Linked DNA regions of Homo sapiens. The protein of the gene in region 1 interacts with the protein of each later gene in a pairwise test. Each region holds a gene or a part of one and is shown on either strand. Other genes may lie near its edges. The genes, in order: BNIP2, OTX2, GSC2, GPX8, CYB5R3, RASGRP4 and LDLRAD1.

Region 1 (3,500 bases):
CCCTGGGTGACAGAGTAAGACCCTGTCTCAGAAAAATAAATATCCCAGATCTTTTCACGTGCAAGTTTGTGAACAACAGAATGAAGGTTAAAGTAAAAGTATTTGTTACTAGATACAGGACTAGATGAGTCCTTATTCTTTGATATTATGGAACGATAGTTTTCCAATTCAAGAGAAAAATTGTCATTTTAAAACTGGGAAATATATCTCAGATTATTTGTTCCAACTTTGTTTCGTTTTGTTTTGAGATGGAGTTTCACTCTGTCACCCAGGCTGGAGTGCAGTGGTACAACTACGGCTCCCTGCAGCCTTGACCTCACGGGCTCAAGCCATCCTCCTACCTCAGCCTCCCTAGTGGCTGGGACTGCAGGCACATGTCACCACATCCTGCTGACTTCTTAATTTTTGGTAGAGACAGAGTCTCACTATGTTGCCAGGGTTGGTCTCAAACTCCTGGGCTCAAGTAAGCCACCATGCCTTACCTGTCCCAACTGTTTTATGTTAACATTTGCAGGCACATTAAGTGTAAAGAAGTGATTTTTGTCTCAAAATCATGTGGCTAAATTACATTTACCCCTAGAAGGCCAATATAATTGAGCCAAATCAGTTCTTTTTCCACAAGGTCATTCTATTTCTCAGGTTAGTGCAGTTTTTAAAAACCGTATTGTGGAAAGTTTCAGACATACACAGGGGTAAAGAGAAGTATATCAAATCTTCATGTATCAGTCACTTCAACAATTACCAATTTATACTTTGTTCCCACTTCTAACCCCCAGTTTACAAGTTTGAAGCAAATCCCAGGAGCAAATCATTTCACCTAGAAACATTTCAAAATATATCTCTAAAAAATAAGATAATCGTAATACTAGCTAATGCGGTTTGAGCATTTTCATTGTTGCTCTCATTGTAGGAGAGAGGAAGGAATTGTATAATGGTACAATTTAGAGAACCTAGTTCAGTTATGCACAGTGATTTTTAAGGCTTAAACTTAATTTGTTTTTTACAGATATGTTATTGGCACTTTGGAGCTATTAGTAGCAGAAAACTACATGATAGTTTATTTAAATGGTGCAACAACTCGAAGAAAAATGCCCAGTCTGGGATGGCTCAGGAAATGTTATCAGCAAATTGATAGAAGGTAATACAAATACAAGTTGAAAGCTAGTCTGAAAAAATTTTATAATGGCTTTAGGAAATCAAACTTTGTTTTTCGTTGCTATTTTTTTTTTTTAACTTTTTTTTTTTTTGAGACGGAGTTTCACTCTTGTTGCCCAGGCTGGAGTGCAATGGCACAATCTCGGTTCACCGCAACCTCCACCTCCCAGGTTCAAGCGATTCTCCTGCCTCAGCCTCCCAAGTAGCTGGGATTACAGGCATGCGCCACCACGCCCAGCTAATGTTGTATTTTTTGTAGAGACGGGGTTTCTCCATGTTGGTCAGGCTGGTCTCGAACTCCTGACCTTAGGTGATCCACCCGCCTCGGCCTCCTGAAGTGCTGGGATTACAGGCGTGAGCCACCGCGCCCAGCCTTCTGTTGCTATTTTAAAACACCATTTATTTTTTAAATTTTATTTATTTATTTCATGGCAGGTTTCTGTTTTCTAAAGATAGCATTTTAGAATATTGTGAGGGAAATCAATTTTGATTTTTCTATAAAGAATAACCTTAATTCTTCAAACTTACAAAGTAGCTTTATATTTCTCCTTATTTAATTGAAGACTTTCTCCTTATTTATAAGATGCAATTTTCTCCACATTGAACACTTTTTTTCCTATTATTTACGTCTTGGCAAAGGATGGAGAATGTAGTATGTTTCCTATTTCATTACATTGAGTTTTGCCTAATTTATAGTGCTTAGCATGTTTTATGTTTTTGTTTTTGTTTTGTTTTGAGACAGGGTCTCACTCTGTCATCTAGGCTGGAGTGCAGTGGTGCAATCTCTGCTCACTGTAGCGGCAACCTCCCAAGCTCAGGTTATTCTGCCACCTCAGCCTCCCAGGTAGCTGGGACTACAGGCATGTGCCACCACACCCAGCTAATTTTTGTATTTTTTGTAGAGACAGCGTTTTGACATGTTGCCCAGGCTGGTTCTTGAACTCCTGGACTAAAGCGATCCACCTGCCTCAGCCTCCCAAAGTGCTAGGATTACAGGCATGAGCCACAGCGCTCAGTATTTATGTTTTTTAATGGTGCTTATTTAGTTGTAATCTTTCTTTGGAACAAGCTTTAGAAGTGTTTTGTCTTGGGAGTTAGTCATCAGTACTTAATGGAAGGAATGTGATCTTCCGATTGGTTTGATCTTGCTGTGGCTAATTTAAATCAAGTCAGACCCATTAATAGGTTTCTCTTCACATCTAAATTTGACATTGGCTAGCTCTTATGATTATATATGTATCTCACTTTATGTGTGAAATATGCATAATACAAAGAGTATTTAGTCATTTAAAAAGGAGAAGTCTAGGATAAAACCTTTAATTTTTAATCAAAACTTTAAATTCCTTAAGAATAGGAGTTAGATCTGATTTGTTTTTGTTCCTGTGGTCATCTTCTCCACTCACACTTCTCTGCCTGCACAGTGCTTTTCATGGTTTTGAAGAACTTAGCACCAATTTCTCCCTAGTCTTGGAAAATGAGAATAGTTTACTTTTACATTCAGTATTGGCCTCTTTCCCTGTTTACAGAGTCCTGAAGACAAGTGAATGTGTATGCTAGGAGACATTTAGTAACAGGCTATACTGTGGACGTAAATCTGGCCAAATGAAGTAAAGTTCATTTCATAGCAGTAGGAGGGACCATAAGAATTTAAGAGTGCATTTTCTTGTCTACAGGGGTATCACACCTAATTGAGAACTTTTGGGTGAGATTTTTCAACTATTATTTTGTATAAACTTGCAGCATTAGAATTTATAGAAATTTTTAATTTTCTTTGTGTGTGTGTGTTTTTTTTTTAAACTCCAGGTTACGGAAAAATCTAAAATCCCTAATCATTGTACATCCTTCTTGGTTTATCAGAACACTTCTGGCTGTTACAAGACCATTTATTAGGTAATTTTTGAGAGCCATTGACTTTAATTTTATTTTTTTTATTTATTTATTTTTAGTTAACACATAATAACTATACATACTTATGGGATACAGAGCTATATTTTGATATGTGTATACATTGTATAATGATCAAACCTGGGTGATTAGTACATCCATCACCTCAGACATTTATCATCTTTTTGTGTTTTGAACATTCAAAATGACATGATTTTTGTATCTTGTAAACATTGTATCCATTGTATTTGTCAGAAATATGGAAGTAATTATTTTTATTTTCTTCCATAGCTCGAAATTCAGCCAAAAAATTAGATACGTGTTTAATTTGGCAGAACTAGCAGAACTTGTCCCCATGGAATACGTTGGCATACCAGAATGCATAAAACAGTATGTTTTGTTTTATTTCCTTAATTGTATTGGATCTTAACATTTTGATGTGCAATGGATAATACTTTTCA
Region 2 (3,500 bases), on another chromosome or scaffold:
GTTAGGCTCTCCAAACTCAATTTCAGAGCAATCCTGATGAAAGTCACAAAAAGTCTACCTACCACTGTCATTCATATCTATTTTATGCATAGATTAGCAAAAAAAAAAAGTAAAAATAAGTTTGCTAATTTACTCTCTGTCCTAAGAAAAACGTGTTTTGGGGAGGAAAGGCTGAATGTAGGCTTCTTATTCATAAATAGCGGTGTAAAATTAAACTGGACCCAATGTTGTGCTAGAACCATTTTAATATAATTATACATATCTGCCAAATCCAGGAAGAAAAGGTTTATGCATATATAACTTTTCCATTTAACATCTGCAAGCATAAACGACAATGATCTCAGTTTAATAATTCATCAGGGTCAGAGCAATTGACCAATGTCTCTTTACTGCTAGGCTTACCAACAGTAAATTACAGATGAATTAGTGTCCTTTTGCTTCTCTTCTCTGACTCTCTTTGTCCAGAGACATTTTGTCGTAAAGTTTCAGTGCAGCTCACCTCCAGCCAAAGGTAATCTTTTTAGATCAGTACTCAGTTGCTCTGAATTTTGCTTATAATTATAACCTATTTAATCACAGAAGAACCCCTGCAGAGGTGGAGTTCAAGGTTGCATACAATAACAGGAGATCACAGTTTTGAAGTCTAGCACAGATTAAAAACCACAGATGTACCATTTATAAGACACACACTGATTGTCTCTTAAACTACATATTGACTCCTTATGAACATTATTTTTTAAATAAAGTAGTGCATCTAGGACAATCAGTCACACAATTCACACAGCCCTGAAAAGTTTTTTCAGTGCCAACTACCAGTTGGTCATGAAACGTGAATGAGCTTGAGACACTGTTCATTCCTAAGATTCAACCAAGGATTGGCTAAAACAATGGAACACCTCTGCTTAAGAAGGCTATGACCTTCCCTCCCTTCCTTCACAACTTAGTTTTGTTTGATTTTATTTTTGGTGGTGTTTGGTTGCACATGGCTAGAATGCTTTTGATCACTTTGCAAATCAGGATAACCAATGATCTAAAACTATGACAGGATCTTAAGCAGATTGGTTTGTCCATTTCATGTTGCTGGTTTGTAGGCCCCTCTAAGGCCCTTCGTTTTTCCTTCTATGCCTCTCGGAACTTTGATCAGATGAGTCTGAGCATCATCCCATCTAACTCTTTTAACCAATGCCTGGCTAAAACTGGAATGTCCAGCCCAGTATATTTAAAAATCACCCACAAAAAGAGGTTCTACAGGTCTTCACAAAACCTGGAATTTCCACGAGGATGTCTGATCTTTATAATCCAAGCAGTCAGCATTGAAGTTAAGCTTCCAGGAGGCAGTTTGGTCCTTATAATCCAAGCAATCAGTGGTTGAGTTAAAACCCAAGCTTGAAGCTCCATATCCCTGGGTGGAAAGAGAAGCTGGGGACTGATTGAGATGGCTGGTGACTGCATTGGTACCCATGGGACTGAGTGTGGCCCCTGGTCCGGGAAGCTGGTGATGCATAGGGGTCAAATATGATCCACAGTCCATGCCCCCAAAGTAGGAAGTTGAGCCAGCATATCCTTGACTATAACCTGAAGCCTGAGTATAGGTCATGGGATAGGACCTCTGCATGCAGGAAGAGGAGGTGGACAAGGGATCTGACAGTGGGGAGATGGAAGCTGGGCTCCAGATAGACACAGGAGCACTGCTGCTGGCAATGGTCGGGACTGAGGTGCTAGAGGGGGGAGTGAATTGGCCACTTGTTCCACTCTCTGAACTCACTTCCCGAGCTGGAGATGTCTTCTTTTTGGCAGGTCTCACTTTGTTTTGACCTCCATTCTGCTGTTGTTGCTGTTGTTGGCGGCACTTAGCTCTTCGATTCTTAAACCATACCTTGGAAGGGAAAGAAAATTCTTTAACTCGGTTTTGATAGTTCCTTAAGGACAAGAATGGCTCCCGTATTATAAATCTATCCTACATGGGCAGATCAGCTAAACACACAATTTCCCCTGCCACTGAAGACCTATTATGTGGTACTCTCATATAAACTCCTGGACTTGTAAGAAAGTTGGGGAGGCTCTGTCTAAAAACACTTGACACTGTCTTATTTCTTGCCCAGAATAACATTTAAGATAATCCCCCAAATCATATAGCTAAAAACTCTCCACATCACTTTCCTATCTTATTTCGCCTCTAACACACACATACACATAGACCCAGCTATATTTTGGAACACTCTCACAGAGGAATAGAATGTATCTCTGTCTTTTGGAGGGAAATACATGAGAAGTGAGAGAAAGCAATTCTGTTGTTACAGGCTAACAGGAACAGCCTAAATTCATTTACAGTTCATCTTCCAGGAAGCAACTGCTAATATAGAGGTTGGTTGGTTCCATCACCCTTCTGTCTCTCTTAGAAAGACTCACAGAACAAAGCTCCAAGGGGAAGACATGATCTTGTTGAAGAAAGAGGTCTGAAAGCCACTATTTGCTAAAAGCTTCTTTGTGGTAAAAGGAGTGACTTACATGCACTCTGCTTTGAGCTGGAGCACAGACCTGCTAGTCTCTGGGACTCGAGTCTGTGTTGTTAGAGTAGTGCCACTCAGCACATAGACTCAGTCTCCTGTGCTGTGTTTACTGACTTACCACTTCAACCCCCTGCTGCAATCTTGACAATTCTCTTTACCAGCCCTGTTCATGTTCTGCAATGAAGGAGCTATGATTGGTGTACGAGGGGGCTTAGAAGAGGAACTACTGGCATTTTCTGGAGGACAAATCCTTAGCTGAACTTTTGAATGAGCTCTCTGTATGGGTGCCGTAACTGTGGTAAAAGTGAGGCCACCAAGGCCAAGCTCAAGACCACCAACCATTTGGAGCCATTTGTTTTCTCCTAGTGAGGACTTTGGTTCAAGCCTTGCAAGTGCTAAAACTTCCTCTAACCTACTTTGAAAAAGCCCCTTTCCCAATTTGCAGCTGACACTGATGTCTGTCGCTTTCATAAACATATTCTAGCCGAAGGAGAGGCCCAGGTGTGTATGTGGTTTATGTGCTAAACACTTTGCAGAGAATTCTGTACAGGGCTCACTCACAAGGCAAGCTGGAGTTGACCTTCCCTCTCCAGTTTAAGGTCAAGTTTAGGGGAACTAAAACAAGAGGGGTGTCACTAGAGACATTATGTAGATATTTTATCTGTTAAATGGCTCAGAACTAGAAAATTCTCTTCAATCCCTAAGAAGTCAAGGAAAATACATTCTTTTTGTGTTGATTTATTTGGTAAAAGCACCAGCTGCGTCTATACCCTGACTCTGCCACCAAACTTAGTTATGACCTTGAGCAAGTCATTTACTCTATTTTTTCATCTGTAAAAATACTTGGACTGTCCAAGAGCTAAGCTGCTTTCACACGTACAAGTCCATGAGAATAGGAGAGGATTTCTATACAGAGGAAGGGAAGGGTTACAACACCACGTGACTACTCTTGAAACCTGCTCAAGGATGGGTCTCTCTCCACCAGCAACC
Region 3 (4,217 bases), on another chromosome or scaffold:
TGAAAAGTGTGGGGCTGTGGCAGCCATTCTACCACCAAGAGGTGGGTGGAGGAGGGGTTGACAGAGCCACTCATGGAGGTGGCAGCTCATCACTGAGCCTCCAGACTACCCCTGGGAAACCTATGTGGGAGCTCTTGTGACAGAAATTAAATCAGCAGGTTCGGTCACAGTGATGTCCACAGCACTTTCACTGATAGCAGAGTGGGGATGGCAGAGTCTTGCAGAGGGGCTGGCGGCGGGAGGAGCGCAGGAATACGCATTGCCCTGGGGAGGCGGCCAGGTTCTAACCGTCTCACACCTAGTCACTACACTTTACAGATTGGGAAAGCCAAGCCCAGAGGCTGAAGACGCCTATGGAGGTCACACGGCCAGAAATTGACAACGGAGTATGAGCCAGGCCGTCTGTTTCTCTGTGCTATGAGTCCCATACTGTATTTTCAAAGGTCAAGAGGAAAGGGTCTTAAGCTGAAGTGACGGTCCCGCTGCCAGGAGCCGCTTCACTGAGGGTGAAACAATGTAGCCAAGTGCGGGTCACCTGCGCTGTGGCAGAAGGGACCGAGGACGGTGTGGCCAGAGGACTGGCCTGGGCGGAGAGCGAGGAGGGGGAGCCCACAGCTTCTGGGGGGCAGTGACAGTGCGGGGAAGGGCGAGGTGCAGTGTTGGATGTTTTCGCGGGGATTCTGGGACCAGTGGGAAAGCTGGAGGACAGGCGGCTCTGAAGCACCGAGGAGGGGCCTCGGAAGGGGCGGGGAGGTCTCCTTGACACAGGTGAGGAGACGGAGAACTGGGGGCACCCGGCAGCCCAGGCTTCCTGCCGCGCTCTCACGCCCTCCAGGGCCATGAGACCCTGGCTCCGAGGTGGCGGGCAGGTTCGGGACCCGAGCGCGGCGGGATCGTGCGGTTGCCGGTGGTGCTGGGCCCCATGGAGGCTGCGGTCCAGGAGTTTCGGGTGGGCGGCTAGGCCGAGCTTCTGCAGGCGTGCTGAGCCGCCGCAGTAGGGCCCCAGAGGGGACGAGGAATTAGGCCCAGCCGAACGAGGGGGAGCCACCAGAGGCTGGGCCGGGAGGCACCGCCGCGCTCTGGGGAGCTGCCAGGGTCGGGGCGCCCTCCGAGCGGCTGCCAGGCCCCGCGGGCGGCGGCGAGGCGGCCCTCCGCCCCTTCCCCGCAGGTCGCCCTGCCAGCTTGAGCGGCGGGCGCGGGTGGGGCAGGAGGACGCGGGGCGGGGTGGGGGGCACAGGGGGCCCTCTCTGCAGCGCCCCCGGCCCCCGCGCGCGGAGGCAGGGCCGCCGCAGTCGAGGATTAGCGCGTTCGCGGCCGGCGCTGCGGGATTAACCCGCGTGGACTGGACGCCCGGCCCGGGGATTACTGCGCGCTCCCTCCCCGACGTATATATTCCCGCGGCGGCGGCGCCCCGGCCGGGCCGGGCATGGCGGCAGCGGCTGGGGGCGCGGCGAGCCGCCGGGGTGCCGGGCGGCCCTGCCCCTTCTCCATCGAGCACATCCTCTCCAGCCTGCCCGAGCGGAGCCTCCCGGCCCGGGCCGCCTGCCCACCGCAGCCCGCCGGTCGCCAGAGCCCCGCGAAGCCAGAGGAGCCCGGGGCGCCCGAGGCTGCGCCCTGCGCCTGCTGCTGCTGCTGCGGCCCCCGCGCGGCGCCCTGCGGGCCCCCAGAGGCGGCCGCCGGGCTGGGTGAGTGGGCGCGGAGCGGGGCGCGGGGCCCGGCGGAGCCCGGGGCGCGGCGCAGTGGGTGCCGAGCTTGGCCCCAGCCCCGCGCCTCACCGCGCCCTCGCTCCGCAGGCGCTCGTCTGGCGTGGCCGCTGAGGCTGGGACCGGCGGTGCCCTTGTCTCTGGGTGCGCCAGCCGGAGGTTCCGGGGCGCTCCCGGGCGCGGTCGGCCCGGGTTCGCAGCGGCGCACGAGGCGCCACCGCACCATCTTCAGCGAAGAGCAGCTGCAGGCGCTCGAGGCGCTTTTCGTGCAGAACCAGTATCCTGACGTGAGTACGCGCGAGCGCCTGGCCGGCCGCATCCGCCTTCGCGAGGAGCGCGTGGAGGTGAGTGCCCCGCCCAGCCTTTCCCCGGAGCGCGCGGGCCGCGGCTACACTGGACTGGGGTCCTGGCGGGCGGGCGCCCTTTGCAAAGACGGCCTCGGCCCAAGCCCCGCCCTGGCGCGCCGGAGGGAGGAGGTCCCTGGACGGCGCTGGGCGTCCGGGGGTATGAGGAGCGGGTGAGAGCAGGGAGGTGCCGCGGGAAAGGAACCGGAGGGCTACTTTTCTTTTCTTTTGTTTTACACTTTCCTCTGGTGACGAAAGAGGCCCGCGTTCACGTCCAGAATTTGGGAAATTCAGAAGAGCCCGCAACCCAAGAAGGGGCGTCCTGGTCGCCGCCAGCTGGAGGCTGGGGCGGGTACTAAGGGGGTTCCCATCTCGCGTCCAGACCCACCGAGTCTGTCCGCAGCGAATAAGGGCAGGTGGCGCGCAGCCGCGGCCCGGGTGTCGGCTCTACAGCGCCGTCCGCCCACATCCCTGTTGCGAAGCTCCCCTCTCGGTCCCTGTGGGACCCTCGGGAGCCGGTGGGACGCAGGACCTGGGGCTAGGGCTGAGCATTCCCCCCATCCCCAGGTCTGGTTCAAGAACCGCCGGGCCAAATGGCGACACCAGAAGCGCGCGTCGGCTTCCGCGAGGCTCCTGCCCGGCGTCAAGAAGTCCCCGAAGGGGAGCTGCTGATGACTCTAGGAGCTGCCCCTGGGCTCGGCCACCCTTTTTGGGATCTTTGGAGTTGGCGCTGAGAGAAGACAGGTCTACCCGAAAAGGAGCTGGGAGAGTACACCGGCCGCCTCCACCCGTCTCCACAGCCCTTGCCTCCTGCAGCTCGTGCTGCCGTGGCGCTGGGGACGGGCCCCCGGTGCTTGGTGTTCCACGGCAGTGGGAGTGGCGAGTCCCTTGGGGGTGGGCTGGGGCATAGAGCAGTTTCCTCAGCTCCCTACCCCCCGAGAGACACTAACTCCACCGCAGGAGGGGAACCACCCCGTATCAACACGGGACCCAGAATCCTACGCAGTGGAGCGTCTCTCCGCACCCTGGGACATGCTGGCCACCCTCTTCTCAATGTGGACATTGACCTAACTTGACCTGGCTCGTCCTCCCCCAGCGGGAGAGGGGATGGGGTTCGTGTCTGTGCAGTCCTGGCGTTGCAGGCTTCCCAGGCCCTGGGCTGGGTCTTGGTATCTGGACCTGTAGAATAAGAAGGTCGCAGGAGCGATTCCAGGAGCCCCTCCACAGTCCCTTCACCTTCGAGCCTCGCGCTGATACTGAGAAACTAGCAACTTCAAATACCACAGAAGCCGCCCAGAGTCTCAAGTCCACCTTGGCTCCACTCCCACACCCAACAAGGAGCTGTCCCTTCTTCTTCCTTCCCAGCGAGGGGGTATTTAGGGTACAGCTGTCTTTGAGAGGAGCACAGCTCAGCGATCCTCAGTCTCTGCACCAGGGTGCTCCCCAGCAGAGGGGACTGCTCCACGGATGGTGGCCTTGGACCCCTGGGGTCCAGCCCTGGCCTCTAGGCTACTGTGAACCTGCCCATGGGTGAGGGTCCCCTGCTTCCTCCTGGGGTTTTCATGCTGTGGGCTCGGACTCCCTCACAGCAATCTGTGCCATCCTAGGGTAGGGCAAGAGGAGGTTGGACTGGGGAGACCCCGCCCCTGCTGCCTGGGAAGATGCCTGCCCTCCCCTTCTTTATCCTGGCCCATGGCAAAAGGCACAGTGGAAAGAAGCCTTAGATTCCCCAAGTAGGCCCTACAGTGGGTCCAAAGCATCTCACATCCCCACCCCCAGCTGGCTTGAGCACCTCGTTCTGTCTCCTTACAGGCCCTGCAGGGAATGGGGCCATTCTACCTGCAAGAGATGAAGTCCATCTCTAAAAGCAGGACTGCAGAAGCCAGGGCTGCAGCTCCCCAGACACCCCAAGGCTGGCCAGCTTGGATAACACCAAGCAAGCATGGTGTCCCCAGTCAGAACTGCCCTGACACTGCTGGGTGTCCCTAGCATCCCCGCCTCCACCCCTAGCATGCACACAAAGCCCTTCTCCCTGAACCCTGGTCTTGCCCTTGGGGACTGAACAGACTACCTGTGGACATGCCCGTGTCCCAGTCAGCTCCCTTGCAGCTGGGGACACTCGCATCTCACAGGCTCCAGGCCCCTTGAGTTCCTTGGTTGAATGGCCATC
Region 4 (2,313 bases), on another chromosome or scaffold:
CAGAATTTGGGAGTCAAGTCACAGACTACTTAAATTGGGTCTTTTTCTTCTTAGACAAATTTATACGACTTTTTTACATTTTTGGCCATCTTCCTATTTAATTCTTTTATGCGATGAATGTATATTTCATGAGGCAATAATTAACCTTCACCAACTTGGCAGGTTGCTTTGTTAGTCAATTATAAGGCTAACAAAATATAAAGGTCATGACTTTGGGAGAAGAAATGCCTTGTGACTCTAAGAGGTTCAGTGACTGCTGATCTACACTTTAGGACTTGTATGATCACCCCCTTTTTATACTAGAATTTAGGCTGTTTGGAGTTGACTTTTACTATTTCAGCTATCAGAATGATGCAGCATTGAATTCCTCCCAAGTGGCTAATCTAGTACGAATACATTAGCAACCCAAATCAGCCTATAAGGAATCAAGTTAAATGATCTTATACTCATGTCCTTTTTTCTACACTTGGGATTTTCACGCAAAAATAAAGACTGACTTACTTGGTAATATTATGATTACAGAATTTGAGTTGCTTCTAAAAAATAATGCAGAGAGAAATACTGAAAATGATGAAGACTTTTTCAAATGTTATAATACGGTCATTTATAAATGACTATTTATATATGTCAGTTACATACATAGTGACAGTTATAGTAAAACACTAGGAACCTGTACTTAAAAAGAAAAAACAAAATCCTGTACACAAAACAAGCATACATATATAAGGATTTGAATCTATGTATATATATTTTACATTTTTCAACATTTGTGTTTTATTCCATTAACATAACCATTTACAGTTATTCCAGAAATTTCAGTCATACACAGTGCTCTTGAATCCAAAGAGTGGTCTAGTGTGTTGGCATTTTCATCAAGTACAGTCCTAGAAAATGTCAAGTTGAACAATAAGATATTGAGGCACATTGGTCACTGTGTATTCTGAATTCTTTAGTATGGTCAGAGGAAGTAGTTAATATATTTCATGTTGATTCTTTGGCTACTCTTGATTTTTGCTTTGGGTAACATCCTCATCCTGGGAACATTCATTACCACTTAATAGCAAGATAACATTAAAAAAAAATCCTTCATTGCCACATTTAATAGCATGTTTAAAAAGGCAGAGGTTGCAATGAGCTGAGAACGCACTACTGCACTCCAGCCTGGGTGACAGAGTGAGACACTGTCTCCAAAAAAAAAATGTTTAAAATGAGACCAAACCCTCATGGAGACATTTCTCTGTTCTATTAGAAACGCAATGGCATTCTCATAGATCCTCTTTCTTTTTTATGATCACTTGTCTAACCAGAGCTGCTATGTCAGGCCTGATGACTTCAATGGGCTCCTCTGGCTTCCAGAACTTCACAACTTGACCCTCAGGGTTGACAAGATACTTCCAAAAATTCCACCTTGGTTCCTTCTTTGAAGAATCTAAAATATCCAGAACATATTTTCATGAGCATAATTTTATTCTTTGTCAAGATTTTCACTTCTATTAGTATCTGCATAAATGATAACTTTAGTATCAAGTTCTAGGACTGTCATAATATAAAAAACAAAACACCCAAACGAAGTGAAACTCAAGGTTAGAGTAACCAGATTTCAATATACTTGATGACTTCACCTATGAGTCTACTCATCTAGTATGTGATCTTAGTATCAAGAAATGAAGCAAAGTAGGCTGGGAGCCGTGGCTCAGTCTGTAATCCCAGCACTTTGGGAGGCTGAGGCGGGTGGATCACCTAAGATCAGGAGTTTAAGACCAGCCTGCCCAACACGGTGAAACCCCATCTCTACTAAAAATACAAAAAATTAGCCGGGTGTGGTGGTGTGCACCTGTAATCCCAGCTACTCGGGAGGCTGAGACAGTAGAATCATTTGAACCTGGGAGGTGGAGGTTGCAGTGAGCTGAGACCACACCACTGCCCTCCAGCCTGGGGGACAAGAGTGAAACTCTGTGTCAAATAAAATTAAAAGCCAAAAAAAATGAAGCAAAGTTGTAATCCCAAATTGCTGGGATTACAGGTGTGTGCCACCACACCAGGCAAATTTTTGTATTTTGAGTAGAGATAGGGTTTTGGCCTCCCAAAGTGAATAATCACCTTATTTTGAAAAGCAATAACTTTTTTTTTGGCAGGGTCTCGCTGTGTTGCCCGGGATGGGCTTGAACTCCTGGGCACTAAAGTGATCCTCCTGTCTTGGCCTCCCAAAGTGCTGGGATTACATGCATGAGCTACCATGCCCAGCCATGATATCCTTTTGATAAATCTTAATTTATGTAAGAAATGTAGATTTTTTTTCTATTTATACCACTC
Region 5 (3,500 bases), on another chromosome or scaffold:
AGCTACTCAGGTAGCTGAGGCAGGACAATCGCTTGAACCCGGGAGGCGGAGGTTGCAGTGAGCCGAGATTCACGCCATTGCACTCCAGCCTGGGCAATAAGAGTGAAATTCCGTCTCAATTTTTTTAAAAAAAGTTATGTCTTCCTCTCTGAGCTAAAGTGTGTCTCATGCTTTAATCCTCACCACCATCCTTTGAGGTGGCCACCGCCGCGACCCACCTGACAGATGAACAGAGGGATGGAACCTTGGGGGGCTGCTACTCGAGGGTAGGGGGCTCCCAGCTCAAAACCAGGCACTGAGGTCACGGAGGAAGGTAGGAGAGGAAACGAGCAGCAATGACCCGACTGGCACGGTTCTCGGAGTGTAGCATGGGGACCCCTGGGGTTGGGACCCTGGAGAGGATCCCTGAGGCCAAATGGTTTTCATATAATACTGAGACACTGGTATTTTTCACTCTTCCTCTCTCAGTAGATGGGGCCACTTTCCAGAGGCTGCGTGACTGGCAACATCACACAGATGGGATGTAGAAACAAACACAGGAATCTAGCTGTCCTATGAAGCCAGACATTCCAAGGTTTGCAAAAACGTAAAACAGAATGATGTTTTCTAAAATAGTTTTTTAAAAATAAAAATAGGCTGGGTACTGTGGCTCACGCCTGTAATCCCAACACTTTGGGAGGCTGAGGCGGGTGGATCACCTGAGGTCAGGAGTTCGAGACCAGCCTGGCCAACATGGTAAAACCCCATCTCTACTAAAAATATAAAAATTAGCCGGGCATGGTGGCACACATCCTGTAATCCCAGCTACTCGGGAGGCTGAGGCAGGAGAATCACTTGAACCCGGGAGGCGGAGGTTGCAGTGAGCCAGGATTGTGCCATTGCACTCCAGCCTGAGGGACAAGAGCGAGACTTTGTATCAAAATAAATAAATAAATAAAACCCTGGTTTGCATCCTGGTTTCAGCACTTCCCACGAGACATGCACAGTCAAGCCCCTCCCGGAGCCTGTGTTCGGAGGTATGAGATGAGGCGACCACACTGCCCTCGCTACCAGCTGCAAAGATGGCCTGTACAGGTGACAGACGGTCTGACGGCCTCCACAGACTCTGAACCAGCACCACCAAGTCTCACTGCTGCCCTCTCTCCCTCCACACCAGCCAGCTTAGAATTTCTGGCTCTTTCTCCCCTGGGCCTGGCAAGGCCATCTTGGTTGGCCTTGCGGCAGTTTTCTGCAGCTGCGGGGAGGCAGGGTGGGGCAAGGACCCACATCCAAGGACCTCAGGCAAGCATCTTCTCCCCCAAATCTACGTCATCAGTCACAAAACACTAACCTGAAAAGACCTTGCAACAACCCAGTTTCATCAGCTCATTCTACAGATGAGGGAGTGAAGCTCAGAGAGGGAAAGTAGCTCGTCCAAGACCACACAGCAGGCCAGGGCGGGCAGGCAGGCAGTGGGCTCGTGGACAAGGATATGAATCAGGAGCCAGAGACACCAACATTCAAATCCTGCCCTGACACCCTGTAGCTCAGGGGCTTCGTGCAAATGTCTGGTCATTTGTAAGATGGGCCCCTCCATGTCCAGGCCAGCATTCTTCCCACTCTACCAGTGGGTTCCACACCGTGCTCATGGTGAAGGGAGTTCTGAGTTTTGGAGGAAGCAGCCAGGGGAGGGGGTGCTCAGGGAGCTCCCCGCAAGGCAGCCCCCTCAGCCAGACACAGGCGCTGCACCACAAAGCCTGCCCGCCGTGCTGCTGCCAAGGCCGCCAGTGCACAGAACATTCAGGGCCCCCCATCCCGGTCATCCCCAGAATCTCAGCAGAGCTGTGCAGACCCCTGGAACAGCACCTGACCAGGCCCGAAGTCCCCTCTCAGGGTAAGCTGAGTTTCCCCATCATGGGGATGCCCACTGACCTGGTTGGCAAAGAGCAGGTGGCACACAGTGTGGTCATCAGGGTCCTTCATGATGGCGCGGATCACCTGCAGCATCGGGGTGATGCCTGCAAAATAGCCGGCCGGGCCTCGCACGTGCTGAGCGAGGCCTGTTCACAGGCACCGCCCCGCCCAGGTGTACTGGGGTGGAGGGGCCAGGACCACTGGGCCTGGGCCCCTGACCTCTGGTAGCTCCCAGGCACTCAGAACCTGCGCCTCACCCACACCCCAACCCCACCCTTAACATGAGCCGCCGGACGCCTCAGTGGGGGGTTCCGTGTACCTGTCCCTCCCGCGATCATGCCCACAGACTTCACTGTCCTGATGATAGGGTTGGACTTTTTGTCAGGTCGGATGGCGAACTTCCCTGGGGAGAGAGAAGGGGTGAGGCCCGGCCATCAAACATGCCATGTGTGGTGGCTGGAGAGGCTGGAGAGGGGGCTGGAGAACCTGCCCCCACTGTGAGGTCCGAGGTAGAGGCAGCTGCCATTCTAACGCGAGCCATGAGGAAGGTGCAGGAGCAGTGGAGAGGCTGGGAACCCGGAGGCTCAGCTCTGTCCTCTTGCTTGCTTGTTTCAGATGCTGAGAAAGCCAAATAGAGGCTGGCAGTGGGTGAGACGTGGCCCCCAGGAGTGGCCTGTCTGCAACCCCTGTGCCAGCAACTTACCCCCTCTACAGCCAGGGAGACTCAGTTCCCAGAGAGGGACAGCTGGCCTGACGAGAGTCACCCATCCACACAGAGCCAGGGGCCTGCACCCTGCACCCAGCACGCCCAAGCTCTCCAATTCTCTGAGCCTGCCGTGTAACCAAGGGATTCCGACCCGAATCACCTTTGCCCTGGTAGACCAGCAGCCCACTGGGGCCCCGGAACTCAATGGTGTCTCCAATCTGCATGCTCTCCAGGTACTGAGACATCTTCCCTCCAGCGGGAAACTTGGGATGGGTGTCCTTGAAGTAAACCTGCAAGACACCCCCGCAGCCCTCAGTCCCCAGCTCCAGGTCTCAGGGGCGAGCTCTTGCCCACAGTGGGAGACAAGTGCCTCTTCTGCAGCTTCTTCTGAGGCCCACACATGGCCTTCTCCCGTGGAGCCCCATCCACCCAGCCGTCAAATCCTACCTGTCCTGCACCCCGTCCTTCACCCCGTCCTCCCAGGAGTCAGCCTCCACCTGACATATCCGGGGAAAGCAAACCACCAGCCTCGTGTACAAGGCCGACCAACTCCAGGGCTGGATGCACTCACATTTCACCAACTGTCTCTGGGGCCCCCTCCCAACGGGAGACACTGAACCCGTCAGCAAAGTCAAGGCTCTGGGAGGCCCACTAAGCCACACTCCTCCTGGTGGACACTCAGTCCCTTCCGTTTTGTGCTGTCGCTAAAAACCTCCCTCACTCTTGGGACTACTTCCTGCCCTGCACTCTCTAGGATTACTGTCTTGGGAAAGAGAAGGGCCTCAATCCGACACCTACAAAGAAATGGGGAGACAGAGGAGGAGCGGCTCACCCTGCCCAAGGAGTCTGATGGATGGAGAAGGGGAAGGTGGCTGGGGGAGGGACAGCGTGTACACAGTGC
Region 6 (3,500 bases), on another chromosome or scaffold:
TGTGGGAGGAAGGAGGGGAGGGTGTTAGAGACCAAACGGGAGCCCTGAGGAGGCAATTCCTGAAGGCAGGTCCTCCCATGCCTCTGCCTGGGGAGGACAGAAGAGATTCCAGGGGTCTTCTCCCGAGTCCCTGGTAGGCCAGGAGTAATCCTGGGATCTGCCAAAAGGAAGTCTCTTCCAGGATGCCCTGGAAGCAGTCAAGAGGAAGTTGGGGGCAATGCCTGGGGAAGGAGTTCTTATGATTCCCTGAGGGGTCTTGAGTGGTCCCAGGGGTCTTCTACTGTGATTCCCTGGGAGATTCAGAGCAGTCCTGAGCGGCGGTCCCCAGGCTTTTTGGCATCAGGGACCAGTTTTGTGGAAGGGGGTGGGGATGGTGTGGGGATGATTCAAGTTAATTACATGTATCCTGTGCTTTATTTTTATTATTATTACATTGTAATATATAATGAAATAGTTACGCAGCTCACCATAATGGAGAATCAGTGGGAGCCCTGAGCTTGTTTTCCTGCAACTGGATGCTCCCATCTGGGGGTGATGAGAGACAGTGACAGATCATCAGGCATTAGGCATCAGGCATCATAAACAGCACGCAGCCTAGATCATCAGGCATCATAAACAGCACGCAGCCTAGATCCCTCGCATGTGAAGTTCACAATAGGGTTCATGCTCCTAAGAGAGTCTAATGCCCCAGCTGATCTGACAGGAGGTGGAGCTCAGGCGGGGGTGCTTGCTTGCCCGCTGGTTCCTAACAGGCCACGGACTGGTACCTGTCTGTGTCCCAGGGGCTGGGGACCCCTGGTCTTGAGGATCTTCCTCTCTGATTCCCTGAAGGGAGCAGGAATATCCCTGGGAGTTTGCTTGTGGGAGAGGGCTCCCATGATTCCCCCAGGGATCTGGAATATTCCTGGGGATTCTCTCTAGAGTCCCTGGTAGGTCAGGGGTAACCCTGGGGCTTTGCCTTTAGGAAGCCTCTCCCGTGGTGCCTTGGGGCATTAGAGTCAAAAGGAATTCTAGGGTCTGTCCGAAAGAAGGTGCTCCCATGACTCCTTGGGGGCTGTGCCCACAGGAAGTCCCACCAGGAATGCACCGGAAAAATAGGAGGGCGAGGCCGGCCCCGCCAAGTGCGCCGCCACAAGACATGCCCCAGCCCTCGGGAAATCAGCAAGGTCATGGCTTCCATGAACCTGGGCCTGCTGAGTGAGGGCGGCTGCAGCGAAGATGAGCTGCTGGAGAAATGCATCCAGTCCTTCGGTAAGTGTCCTCTCCCCAGCAGCCTCCCTGGCCCTAACCTCGGGCTCAGCACTCGCTTCTCTCCACCTCAGTTTTTGGAGGTAAAATGAGAACAGGGCTGGGTGGAATGAAACTCAATCACTACATTAGAGATAACAGAAACACCTGCATTTCTTCTTTCCTGAAATGGAAATATATACATTTATATATATATATAATATATGTGTATATTATATATATTTATATAAATCTTTTTTCTTTTCTTTTCTTTTTCTTTTGAGACAGAGTCTCGCTCTGTTACCCAGGCTGGAGTGCAGTGGCCTGATCTCAGCTCACTGCAACCCCCACCTCCTGGGTTCAAGAGATTCTCCTGCCTCAGCTTCCCGAGTAGCTAGGATTACAGGCACATGCCACCAGGCCCAGCTAATTTTTGTGTTTTTAGTAGAAACGGTGTTTCACCATGTTGGCCAGACTTGTCCCGAACTCCTGGCCTCATATGATCCGCCCGATTCAGCCTCCCAAAGTGCTGGGATTACAGGTGTGAGCCACTGTGCCCGGCCAGTCTGGTGCTATTTCAATCTTCAGCAAGACTTGCCAGGGGTGATGCTGCCCCATGCACAATACAGATAAGGAAACTGAGGCACAGGAGGTTAGGTTGCCTGTCCAAGGTCATGCTGGGGATCACCGTTAGAGCTGGTCTTTGAACCAGGTGGTCCGGCAGGATCTGGAGCTACGCTCTGCATTGCTTGAGGGCCATTCTGTCACAGAGTACCCCTCCTTCCACCCCAGATTCAGCTGGCAGCCTGTGCCACGAGGACCACATGCTCAACATGGTGCTGGCCATGCACAGCTGGGTGCTGCCGTCCGCCGACCTGGCTGCCCGCCTGCTGACCTCATATCCTCCAGGACTGTGAGCTATGGGTGGAGGGCAGAGGGCAGAGTCGTGAGAACCTGGGCAATGGGAATGGGGAGCAGGCAGGTCATGGATCCTGGAAAACAGAGCCTTGACCAGAACTCAAATACCAGAAGGCCACAGGGGACACCCAGGAGCTGAGACGGCTGCAGATCTGTCACCTGGTCAGGTAGGGCTGGGCCGAGATCCCCACTCTCAGGACCCACGACTTCCATCCTGCTTCCCCCTCAAAAAACATTCCTCAGAGAATCCCCAGGCCAGTTCCCACAGACCCAACCAGCCCCACAGGCCAAAATCCCACTTCTGAGACACCTGTAGCTTGGTTCCTAAGACCCTCTTAGTTCCGTTCCTTAGAACCCCCACTTCCTAGAGACCCCCCTCACCAACCAGATCCCATAGACCCTCCTAGCTGGTGCCCAGAGACCTCCAACTCTGATCCCCAAAATCTCTACCTCCCACAGACCCCAGCCTAGCCCATAAGACCCCCTCATTCTGTCCCTCCAAAAATTTCACCCCCGGAAGCCCCCAGTCTAGTTCCTAGGACGCTCCACGATCTTGCTTCCCAATAATCCCACTTCCAAGTGACTCCCCGGTCTGTTTCCCACAGATCCCCCCAGTCTCTGTTAAGAGACCCCCATCCTACTCCAGAGATTCTCCAAGCCTGGTGCCCCTCCAAACCCCAACCCTCCAGGGACCCCCACACACATTTAGAGACCCCCTAGCTCAGCACCTAGAAATTCCTCAGCCCAAAATACCCCTTGTAGAGACCTTCGCCACCCCCGGCCTCATCTCACCATCTCCAAACCACTCTCAGGTACTGGCTGATGCGACACCCTGAGGTGATGCACCAGGATCCCCAGCTAGAAGAAGTCATAGGTCGTTTCTGGGCCACCGTGGCCCGGGAGGGCAACTCAGCCCAGAGAAGACTGGGAGACTCTTCTGACCTGTGAGTCAGCCCTGTGCTCCCCTCTTCCCTGCCCCATCGCCATTCTGCCATCTCCCTCTATATCCCCAAGCCCTCAACTGTGAGCCACTCCAATACCCTGCCCCTCTTGGCCCCCAGCCTGAGCCCTGGTGGCCCTGGCCCCCCACTCCCAATGAGCAGCCCAGGCCTGGGCAAAAAGCGCAAAGTGTCCTTGCTTTTCGACCACTTGGAGACGGGGGAGCTGGCTCAGCACCTCACCTACCTGGAGTTCCGGTCCTTCCAGGCTATCACGGTGAGGACCCCCTCCCATCCCCGTCCCAAGCAGGGGAGACACTGGGGTAGGGGAGGGATTGGCTGGGGGAAGGTAGGACTGAGAGGACACCTGCATGGTCATTCGGCAGAGATCTCAAAGTCTTAAACTCAAACCTGTAT
Region 7 (3,500 bases), on another chromosome or scaffold:
GGTGCAGTGAACTAGATTGCACCATTGCACTGCAGCCTGGGCAACAGAGCCAGACCCTATCTCTAAAATATAAAAAATAATAATTAAAAAAAGCAATAATAATAGCTCATACTCAACACTTACTCTGTGCACATTAACTCAACAAATTCTAATCCTCTCAACAAAGTCTAAGGTAGCTATTATGGTACCCATTTTCCACATGAGGAAACTGAGGCACAGGGAAGTGAAGTGGCTTACTCAGTGTGGCCCAGGTAGGATGCGGTAGAGCTGGGATTCCAACCTGCATCCCAGCAGACTCCAGAATGGACAGTCAATTGGGATCGTGGAAAGGGCACGGGTTTTGGCATCAAACAGGTGTGGATTCACACGCCAGCTCCACCCAGGGTGACATGAATCTTTTCTTCCTGAGCCCTAGTTTCCTCATTGATAAAATAAAAGGTTGTTTTGAAAAATAAAGCACGCTTATGAAGGGCCTAATGGAGCTTCTGCCCCAAGGTGGGGGCTGGACATGCAGGCGTCCATCTCTCCCTGCGTCCTGAGGAAGTCTCCTGATGGCGGGTGGGAGGGGAGGGCTGTCCGCCTCTGCCATTCAGCCAGCTGTGGGCCCCTGGCCAGGGTGGCACCTAGTGGGGTGGGCCCACAGGCAGAACAAAGAGCATCAAGGAGGGCTTGGGAGCTGCTCCTCCAGGGAAGCCATCCCTGCTCTGCTCACCCTCGTGGGGGAGAGGCTGCTTGCAGCGGGCAGGGCGGAGAGGGAGCTCCCTGTTCCTAGCGCTGGCCCCCTATCACCACCACCCCCGGGCTTGTTTCCCCCCCACACAGCAGGCGGCGGCCACCTCTGCTGCTCACGTCGCGGGGCCTGCCTCTCTGCCTCTCTGCTGCTCCTCCTGGCAACTGTGGCGGCCCTCATCGCCTTGGTCACCATTCTTGGACTCCCATCATGCACCCCAGGTCAGGGCGGCCAAGAGAGGGTGGGTCAGACCCGGCGGGGAGGGCATGGGAGGGCACAGAGAGATGAGGGAGCCCCGACCTGCCTGGCTTCTCCACCAGGTGACTTTGGACTAATTCCTTAAGGTGCATGCACAGACACACACAGACACCTGCACACACACTGACTATACCTGTTTCTGAGCCTCCATTTGCACATCTGTGACATGATTATTGAGAGGACCCAGCTCTGATGTCACCTCCTCCAGGATGCCTTCCTAGACCCCCAGGATGGGTTACGAGCCTCTTCTCAGCCCCCCAGTCCCTACACTTCCTCTTCCCCTGGCCTGGCCACCCCGGGGTGGTGCTATCCAACTGTGTGCCCATCTCCACCACAGGGGACCGGGTGACATCCCATACATGCCTGCAGCCCCAGCTTCAGGGGTGAACAACCCCAACACAGTGCCTGCCTTCAAGGAGCTAATAACTGTTCCGAGAGCCGTCTAGACGTGAATACACATTACAGCGGGGTCCCTGGGAGCCCTGAGAGTCTAGCCCCATTGAGGAGTCAGGGTAGGAACAATGGGTATTAGTAGTGGGGGGATGCCAGGAAAAGCATCCCAGGCACAGGGAACAGCATGTGTGGAGCCCTGAGGGGTGGGAGGAAGCAGGAAGAGAAGAAGAGACTGCAAGAGGCCAGTGCACAGGAAGGGCTGGAGTGACAAGTGGGGCCCAGTGCCAAGGGCCTCACAGGCTGCACCGAGAAGGGAGGTCATAGTCCAGGAGCCACAGAAAGGGGATTAAGTTGGGGGCAAGTTGGGGGCAGGCTGATGTTTCTGAAGGATGGCTCTGCAGCCAGGCAGGGTGGGTATAGAGGGCTGAGGTGGGGGCGGGGGCTGAGATTCGCAGCGCTCCCCCTGCCCTGCAGGAACACAGACCCTGAGGTGGATGAATACATGAGCAGCTGCAGTCAAGAGCCTGTGTGCACATCTGTGTGTTTAGCGTGTCTATGAGTGTACGCAGCTGTGTATGCATGTTCATGTCTGTGTGTCAGTGCGTGTGTGCACATCTGTTGTCTGTGTATCTGTGAGTGTGCACATAGGTGCAGCAGTGTGTGTGTGAGCATGTGTTCATGTGTGTGTGCATCTGTGTGTGTCTGTGTCAACATGAGTGTCTCTGAGAGTTGCTCCCCCCCGCCGCCTCCCCCACACACACTAGCTGAGGCAGCCCAGGGACTGAGAGGTGGTTCACGCATGCACAAACACAAATGCACAAACTGGCTCCCATCCCCAATTATGCACACGTATACACATGTGGGGCCAAGGGGTTCCTCCTACCTTGTCCGTAGGTTTCTGCCTTTTAATTCTTTGGGGCAGCCCTAGGAGTGGGTATTCCTTTTCTCCTCCCATATGGGGGGCTAATGATGACGTGTCGCAGGGGTGTTTGGGGAACTATAGAATAAAGATATGAAAGTGCTTTGCAGTTGTGCCCAGATAGAAGGAATTATGACATATGGCCCTCCAGCCAGCCCAAATATATTGCTTCTGACACTCTAACCTGGTACCAGGAGCTCCACCATTAAAACCACTTCACTGAATTGAACATTGTCCTCAGAAGCTTCCCATGACACTGTAAATAAGTTTTCAATACAAGAGAGAACCATTACTAGTTCTGCACATTTTCTGTTCTATGTTTCTTCACAGAGATGCTTTCATTTAATCCCCACAACAGTCCCACGGGGTGTGTGCTATGATTCCCATGTTGCAAACAACCTGAGACTCAGGGTGGTCAGGTCATCTGCCCAAGATCAGGCAGCCGGCAGCGGGTACAGCTGGGGCTTGAACCCCATTGATGGCGCTGGGTCCATCCTCCCCACTGCCCCAGCCCCTCAGGCCAGCTCTAGGCGGAGTTCAGGTGAGGAAGGTTTGTCCTTGTGAGCACCACCCTTGACCCTCCAGGGCCTTTCCCTGCCCATTCAGGAGCCCAAGCTTGTATAACACTGACAAACAGGACAGGCTTCTTGTGCCATGACCAGAGGAGCTGCATTCCAGCCAGTGGGGTCTGTGATGGCGTTCGCACCTGTACCCACGGCGAGGACGAGGATGAGAGCTTGTGCCGTGAGTACCCGCTCGGTGCTGCCCCTCCCAGGGGTTCCCCCACACTCCGATGCTCTTGGCATCCATACTGAACACATCAGGCACCTTCAAGTCCCCATGGCTTTGATGCTCCAGTGCCTTCATCCAGGAACACCTGCCCCGACCTGGTCCCAGTCAGGGACACACATACATGCCCCCACTAAGGAATGCCTTCACCCTGTGCGTCTCCACTCCCAGAGAACCCGTATTCATCCCTCAAGGCAGAGTTCAAATGTTACCTCCTCCAGGAAGCCTTCCCTGACTCCCACACTAGGTTAAAGTGTCTCCTTTGGGCTTCCACAGTCCCTGTGATTCCCTGTGTCCCAGCCCTTGTCACACTGGTTGTCGCTCTTGATTGGCACATCTGCCACCCCCATCAGACTGTGAACTCCTCTGAGGCAGGCCCAGTCCGCTTGATATCGGGGCCCCAGTGCCTAG

What was found.
Region 2: the proteins of BNIP2 (region 1) and OTX2 interact in binary tests that used the Homo sapiens proteins (3 or more experiments, as listed by UniProt).
Region 3: the proteins of BNIP2 (region 1) and GSC2 interact in binary tests that used the Homo sapiens proteins (3 or more experiments, as listed by UniProt).
Region 4: the proteins of BNIP2 (region 1) and GPX8 interact in binary tests that used the Homo sapiens proteins (3 or more experiments, as listed by UniProt).
Region 5: the proteins of BNIP2 (region 1) and CYB5R3 interact in binary tests that used the Homo sapiens proteins (3 or more experiments, as listed by UniProt).
Region 6: the proteins of BNIP2 (region 1) and RASGRP4 interact in binary tests that used the Homo sapiens proteins (3 or more experiments, as listed by UniProt).
Region 7: the proteins of BNIP2 (region 1) and LDLRAD1 interact in binary tests that used the Homo sapiens proteins (3 or more experiments, as listed by UniProt).

The regions. Positions count from the first base shown.
Region 1 is NC_000015.10:59,668,821-59,672,320, reverse strand, and holds part of BNIP2 (BCL2/adenovirus E1B 19 kDa protein-interacting protein 2), read left to right. Parts: intron 1-1,006; coding exon 1,007-1,138; intron 1,139-2,958; coding exon 2,959-3,045; intron 3,046-3,330; coding exon 3,331-3,429; intron 3,430-3,500.
Region 2 is NC_000014.9:56,800,480-56,803,979, forward strand, and holds part of OTX2 (homeobox protein OTX2), read right to left. Parts: intron 1,877-3,500; coding exon 1,256-1,876; 3' UTR 1-1,255. UniProt on the Homo sapiens protein: Transcription factor probably involved in the development of the brain and the sense organs. Can bind to the bicoid/BCD target sequence (BTS): 5'-TCTAATCCC-3'.
Region 3 is NC_000022.11:19,147,493-19,151,709, reverse strand, and holds the start of GSC2 (homeobox protein goosecoid-2), read left to right. Parts: upstream 1-1,417; 5' UTR 1,418-1,426; coding exon 1,427-1,685; intron 1,686-1,793; coding exon 1,794-2,047; intron 2,048-2,614; coding exon 2,615-2,719; 3' UTR 2,720-4,217. UniProt on the Homo sapiens protein: May have a role in development. May regulate its own transcription. May bind the bicoid consensus sequence TAATCC.
Region 4 is NC_000005.10:55,163,171-55,165,483, reverse strand, and holds part of GPX8 (probable glutathione peroxidase 8), read right to left. Parts: intron 1,430-2,313; coding exon 1,266-1,429; 3' UTR 1-1,265.
Region 5 is NC_000022.11:42,625,393-42,628,892, forward strand, and holds part of CYB5R3 (NADH-cytochrome b5 reductase 3), read right to left. Parts: intron 2,890-3,500; coding exon 2,760-2,889; intron 2,297-2,759; coding exon 2,213-2,296; intron 1,998-2,212; coding exon 1,912-1,997; intron 1-1,911. UniProt on the Homo sapiens protein: Catalyzes the reduction of two molecules of cytochrome b5 using NADH as the electron donor.
Region 6 is NC_000019.10:38,419,720-38,423,219, reverse strand, and holds part of RASGRP4 (RAS guanyl-releasing protein 4), read left to right. Parts: intron 1-1,066; coding exon 1,067-1,251; intron 1,252-2,019; coding exon 2,020-2,125; intron 2,126-2,249; coding exon 2,250-2,312; intron 2,313-2,957; coding exon 2,958-3,089; intron 3,090-3,206; coding exon 3,207-3,360; intron 3,361-3,500.
Region 7 is NC_000001.11:54,011,687-54,015,186, reverse strand, and holds part of LDLRAD1 (low-density lipoprotein receptor class A domain-containing protein 1), read left to right. Parts: intron 1-822; coding exon 823-951; intron 952-2,906; coding exon 2,907-3,044; intron 3,045-3,500.